Homo sapiens: one gene and its partner. The protein of the gene in region 2 purifies or fractionates together with the protein of the main gene of each other region. This does not show direct contact. Each region holds a gene or a part of one and is shown on either strand. Other genes may lie near its edges.

What was found. The genes of interacting proteins can lie anywhere in the genome.
Region 1: the proteins of DENND5B (region 2) and RNLS purify together in Homo sapiens (pull-down; one study listed by IntAct). This does not show direct contact.

The regions. Positions count from the first base shown.
Region 1 is NC_000010.11:88,359,819-88,363,318, reverse strand, and holds part of RNLS (renalase isoform 1 precursor), read left to right. Parts: intron 1-593; coding exon 594-767; intron 768-3,500. UniProt on the Homo sapiens protein: Catalyzes the oxidation of the less abundant 1,2-dihydro-beta-NAD(P) and 1,6-dihydro-beta-NAD(P) to form beta-NAD(P)(+). The enzyme hormone is secreted by the kidney, and circulates in blood and modulates cardiac function and systemic blood pressure.
Region 2 is NC_000012.12:31,581,137-31,584,636, reverse strand, and holds part of DENND5B (DENN domain-containing protein 5B), read left to right. Parts: intron 1-3,500. UniProt on the Homo sapiens protein: Guanine nucleotide exchange factor (GEF) which may activate RAB39A and/or RAB39B. Promotes the exchange of GDP to GTP, converting inactive GDP-bound Rab proteins into their active GTP-bound form.

The DNA.
Region 1 (3,500 bases), on a different chromosome or scaffold from region 2:
CCCATCCCCTAGGTATTAAGCCCAGCATCCATTAGCTCTTCATCCTGATGCTGTCCCTCCCCAATGCCCCCATCCCCAACAGACCCCAGTGTGTGTTATTCCCCCCTTGTATCCATGGAATAATTTAAGAGGTCATAACAGATGGAGCATCAGCCTCCTCATCTGTAACTTGGAAATAATACTCTACCTTTCAAAACTGTTGTTATGATAGAGTGAAATGCTTATGTCAAGTATATAGCAAATACCCTAACTTGTAGTAAGGGGTCAGTGTATGGAATCTATAATGTGGCCAGACAGTCCAAGGACTGGGATACCAGACTAGAAAAGCAATTTGGAGCCAGATTTTGAGAACCTTGAACGCCATTCCAAAGAATGTGGACCTTCAGCTTGATAAAAACAATTTGCCAAAGTTAATAATTATTCCAAAAAGAAATTAGAGCTGGTGCTATTTTACATTACCTTTCAAAATTCATTGTAAGTGAGATGGAGTTGGTGGAAGCTGTTGTAACTGGTTTAAAGGAATTTTATATTTGATGTGCTAAAAGGAAAGATGGTATTTTTAAGTTTGATGCCTTTTATTTTTTCTTCCACAGTAATTAGTGAATGCCAAAGGCAGCAACTGGAGGCTGTGAGCTACTCCTCTCGATATGCTCTGGGCCTCTTTTATGAAGCTGGTACGAAGATTGATGTCCCTTGGGCTGGGCAGTACATCACCAGTAATCCCTGCATACGCTTCGTCTCCATTGATAATAAGAAGCGCAATATAGGTCAGTACCCCTATTATTTCCCTTAAATACAGCAACAATGGTGGGTGTAGATCATGAAAAATGCTGTTTAATTGAGTGTTGCCATTCTGAACAGAGCAAGCATTTAACTCCAAGCCACAGGGGATAAAATTTAATGTCACATTTGGCCAGTAATAAAATACACAGTGAAACCAGCAAAGTTTTTCAGAATTTCATTCACCACATGGTTTATATTACTGAGTTCATGAAAATAGTGTCAGAAGGTTTAAGATTTCAAAATGGCCCAAGTTCTATTGCTTTAATATGGATGCATCTATATGCACATGTATCTCTCATTTGTTTCTTGGTGAAGTTTGTTTTTGTTTGTTTGGTTTGGGTATTTTTTTTTAATTTGATAAGTGCTGCTCTTCCACTCCCTCGGCTAGAAATTAAAGGAGAATTTTACTATGTTATGAAAATCCTTCATTTCAATATAATTTTATTGTTTATTTACATTTTATCTGGGGAAAAATGGTAAATTTACTTTATAAACAATGTAACGGGTAAAATGTTTTATGAGAGCTTCACTAGAATGTGGTGAATCTACACTCCACCCTTTTTGTTGAAGATAGTTATAAAAATTAGATTTGAATTGTAAGAAAAACATAACTGATTCCTTTTAGGCAAAAAGGTGAAGAAAGTGTATTCTCATTTGTAGGACTGCAGTGATCCCTGAGAATGCTGCTTTTTGTGGAATAACCGTTAAGGATGTAAAATGACTAAAACTCTTGAATTGTCCTGTCAATCTGTTACAGTGTTTTATGGGACAGTAATGGCTTCACCAAGCCATTAGTTAGAAGTCTGGCTTGATAAAATCACCAACTAATGTCTCTTGGCTCGCCAGACCTTCATAATGATAGAACTGGGCTGGAGTATGGTTTTTATATCAGAGCTCATGATCTTAGAAAAATGTTTCTTTTATAACTTAAAACTCCCTTAGGGCTGGACTGTTTATGTTAACATGATACCACATATATGTACAATCAGCAGTTCATAAAATGCCTTAGAACTTCAATGGACTATTTTTAACTCTACAACTGCTTTGTTCTGAGAAAAGGAGACTAACCCTTGATCTTTTCATGTTATATGCCATGAATTAGACATTATCCTGTGTATATTTCATCATAAGATATGATATCTGTCAGGGTGTATTAAGTTGTCTATAACAGAAAAAAAAATTTAAACTTGTTTAATAGCATAAAGACATTTGTTATATTATCTGCTATGGACTGAATTGTGTCTCCTCCACAGACATAGGTTGAAGCCCTAATCCCAATATGGTTGTATTTAGAGATAGGACTTTTAGGAGGTAATTAAGATTAAATGAGGTCCTAAAGGTAGCGCCCTAACCCTGTGGGGTTGATGACCTTAAAAGAAGAGCAAAAGAGAAAGCTCTCTCTTTCTATCCCGGCTTGCACACACCATGTGAGGACATAGTAAGAAGGCAGCTGTCTGCAAGCCAGGAAGATAGCCCCAGCTAAGCCAAATCTACCAGCACCTTGATCTTGGACTTCTCAGCCTCCAGAACTGTGAGAAATTTCTGTTGTTTAAGTCACCCAGTCTATGGTATTTTGTTATGGTAGCCTGAGTTGACTAATACATTATCTAAGGAGAAGATTGGAGAGACTTCAGGGTTCATTGATTCAGGAACTGAGCAATCTCTTCAAAGACCTAGGTTTTATCTTTCTCTGCTCTCTTCCACTCCCAATACTGACATCCTCAGAGGACTGGCAGCAAGATGGCAATAGCTGTTGGAGTCACACTGAACTTAACAACATGCTTAGGAATGAAATGAACTATCACTGGCTCTGTTCCTTTCTAAGAATCAAGGAAATCTTGGGAGGCCAAGGTGGGTGGATCAAGAGGTCAGGAGTTCAAGACCAGACTGGCCAATGTAATGAAACCCTATCTCTACTAAAAATACAAAAAACTAGCTGGGCATGGTGACAAGCGCCTGTAATTCCAGCTACTCGGGAGGCTGAGGCAGGAGAATCACTCTTGAACCCAGGAGGCAGAGGTTGCAGTGAGCAAAGATCGTGCCACTGCACACCAGCCTGGGTGACAGTGCAAGACTCCATCTCAAAAAATAATAACAATAAATAATAATACTAATCAAGGAAATCTTTACAGAAGCCCTTTAATAGACTTCTCCTCATGTGCCACAGGCCAGAATTGGATTACTTGAGTACTCCAAAACCAGGTGCTAGCAAAGAGGGTGGAAGCAATGTGATAAGCCTATACAAGTCCAGTTCTACTCCTGGAACTGGTACTAGGGTCATCTTTCCTTTAGTTATGAGGAGTGCTACCTGAATAAAATAGAGTTTTGTTAGGAAGAAGGAAGGAAGTACTAAATGCTGGATTAGCAATCAATAATGTCCATTATCTTCAAGTAGAGTCACATCTTATATGGGAGGTAAAGTTCTAAAGTTGTCACATAAAAAGAGTCATGTACATTCAAAATTACCTTCAAAGTTTCTTAAAACCACATGACATTTTAGAGAATGATGTAACATCTTTCAGTAAATTCAGTACAACTATTTTCCCAACATTCAATAGATTTCTGTTTCTTTGGTGAAGCCAGATTAAAAGTTGATTTGGATTTATAGGACCCAGTGATATTTTCTACTATGAAAGGCACACAGGAAGGAAAGAAATAGCAGAGTCATATCTCCTAACGGACTATACATCTGCTATAAAAATGGAGTGGGATGGTGG
Region 2 (3,500 bases):
AAAGATGTTGCCTAAGCTGATCTCAAACTCCTGAGCTCAAGCAGTCCACCCATCCTTGGCCTCCCAAAGTGCTGGGATTACAGGCAGTGAGCCACCATGCCTGGCTGCGCCATTTCTTTATAGACTACCCAGCCTCAGGTATTTTCTTTATAGCAACACGAAAACAGACTAAGACACTGTGGTATAATGATCATTTAATTTTGGAAATCTACTGGAAATAAAACTCTTTATAGTGAAATTGGCCCAAGAGTGAGTGAAGCTAAATTCTCTGTGATAACCCCAAGGCTCAGGCTTATGGCCCATTTTGTTAATACAGGACACACCAGCATAGACAACTGGGAAGACAAGGGAGGGGAAGAGGGTGAGACATAGTGTCTTTGAGGGAGGAGAGAAAGGGAAAGAAAAGGGGACAGGGAGAGAGAAAGGAGGCTGGAGGAGTACAAGTTCTGTTTGCTGCTAAGGTGTTAAGACAGACTGTCCTAAAATTCCTGTGCACATCCTTTTGCTTGTATTTCCACTGTTGGTCACAGATACTCTCAGAGTAATAAAAGTAAATATCTAGAATACAATGCATTGTTAGTCATGATTTCCATAAAGCTTCATACGGAAGAAAACAATTTCCTCTTCTATAATTTACTGAATGGTAGAGATGGTTCTATACAGGATGCTTTAGGAAACGTGCCATATGCCTGATCCTTAGCATTTTTGTTTAATAATGACCTAAATTTTGTTTTTGGTAAAACCATAACTAGCTATTATATTTTGGATTATTTAATGTTAAATGCTTACAGTGTGTCAGATTCTGGAGTACATACGTAAGTGGTGGCCACTGTCCTATAAGAATCTGTGATGAAATAGTAAAATAGCTAACATTTATAGAGTGCTTTCCACATGCCAGACACTGTGCTAAATTCTTGTTGTTGTTGTTGTTTGTTTTTGTTTTTGTTTTTGTTTTTTCCCAGACACAGTCTTGCTCTGTTGCCCGGGCTGGAGTGCAGTAGCGTGATCTCGGCTCACTGCAACCTCTGCCTCCCAGGTTTAAGTGATTCTCGTGCCTCAGCCTCCCAAGTAGCTGGGACTACAGGTGCGTGCCACCATGCCTGGCTAATTTTTGTATTTTTTGGTAGAGACGGAGTTTCATCATGTTGGCCAGGCTGGTCTTGAACTCCTGACCTCAGGTGATCCTCCTGCCTCGGCCTCCCAAAGTGCTAGGATTACAGTTGTGAGCCACCCCACCCAACCACTGTGCTAAATTCTTTATAGTCAGTACCTCATTCAGTCTGGACAACAACCTTAGGAAATAGGCATTCTTTTCTCTCTCTCTCTCTTTTTTTTTTTTTTTTAAAAGACTGAGTCTCACTCTGTCGCCCAGGCTGGAGCGCAGTGGCGCTATCTCTCCTCACTGCAATCTCCGCCTCCCGGGTTCAAGTGATTCTCCTGCCTCAGCCTCCTGAGTAGCTGGGATTACAGGCACACGCCACCACACCTGGCTACTTTTTGTATTTTTAGTAGAGATGGGGTTTCACCATGTTGATCACGCTTATCTAAAACTCCTGACCTTGTGATCCACCCACCTTGGCCTCCCAAAGTGCTGGGATTACAGGCGTGAGCCACCACGCCTGGCCTGTTTTCTCTTTTGTACACAGGAGGAAACTGAGTCTAGAGAATGAATACTTTACTTCAGTTCCTATAATAAGTAAGAAGCCTGGATTGAAGATCTGTCTGACATAATTCATCCATACCCATAACATCCATACCCATAACCACTATATTTGCTGTCTCCCTAGTAACATATGCTGTATCATACAGATTGTAAAATCTACCAGAATATAGATCCCAAATGGGTAACCTTATCGTCAAGTGAAATTATCTTCTTATTCCTCTATATGGGAAAGATATTAAAGGCGACACTATCGGGCAGGCCTTTATGACCTGACCTAGCTTGTTTCTTCTTTGGTCAGCACTAGTAATTTCTCTTGCATGCATTTCCTCATTCATTCATCACAGATTTAGATTTAGAAGATTATATATTTAATGATATTTTTGCTTTTGTCAATGAATATTTTTAAAGATAAGGTGTTACTGTATAAAGGCTTTTACTATGAAATATACCACTTTTAACTTTTTAAAAAACCTCTTTGCTCTTCTTACTGGGTTTTATCATTTCTTAGCATAAATAATTTGTCATTAGGTGAGTTTATAGTTTTTTAAAGGAATGTATGAATGCTTGTGAAACCATAGCTGGCAGGGCAGTGAGTACAGCAGTTAGAGCTGAATGCACAGTCAGAAGCTGAGATTCCATTCCTGGCCTGTCACTTATGACAGCCGCAGGCATCAGTGTTCTCGTCTGTCTTGAAAAGGGTTAAATGAGATGAATGATTTCTAACTACCACCCTTGGGGCCTGAAATTGTTTTTGAGTAAAAAAACTAAGTTTATCTGTTAAAAAAAAATTAATCCTAAATGTCATAGAACAAGAGGACGAGTACACACCACATGTATAGTCAGCCCTCCATGTGTGTGGGTTCCACATCTGTGGATTAAACCATCATCAAATTGAAAATACAGTGTTCCAAAAAAAATAAAAACCAAAAATTGTGGTTGCATGTACGTGTTTTTTGTTCTCGCTATTGTTCCCTAAACAATACAGCATAACAACCATTTACATGGAATTTGCATCGTACTGAGTATTATAACTAACCAGGAGGTGACTTAAAGTGTACGGGAGAATGTGCGTATGTTATCTGTACGTACTACACGATTTTATGTAAGGGGCTTGAGCATCCTGGGAGTCTTGGAACCAATCCCACACAGATACTGAGGGATAACTATACCACATGAGGAGCGATTAAGTAATTAGAAAATCAGCCACCAGGAAAGGGAGAAAATCAATTAGTTTATACAGTTCCCTTTCCAGAAAAGCTACTTTTTTTTTTTTTTTTTTTGAGACAGAGTTTCCCTGTTGTTGCCCAGGCTGGAGGGCAATGGTGTGATCTCGGCTCACCGCAGCCAGCGCCTCCCAGGTTCAAGCGATTCACCTGCCTCAGCTTCCCGAATAGCTGGGATTACAGGCATGTGCCACCATGTCCCTCTAATTTTTTTTTGTATTTTTAGTAGAGACGGAGTTTCACCATGTTGGTCAGGCTGGTCTCGGGCTCCCGACCTCAGGTGATCTGCCCGCCTCGGCCTCCCAAAGTGCTAGGATTACAGGCCACTGTGCCTGGCCGAAAGCTACAATTTTTAAGAAGCATTTTGAAATCTTAATGTCAATTAATGGACTCCCAATTATTATCTACATGGACTTTTAAGGACCCAGGGGTTCCTGTTTGAAATTACTGTACTAATCTCTAGATTATTACTGTAGTATGGATGATACTGCCAGTTCCCAAATATAGTCATTGAGATCTTAGAATAATTTTTTTCTACTTAAAATTCTCTAATAACTTCCTTTGTATTTAGAATAAGATTCAAACTTTTAGGTATTTGTTTATAACAAATAAAT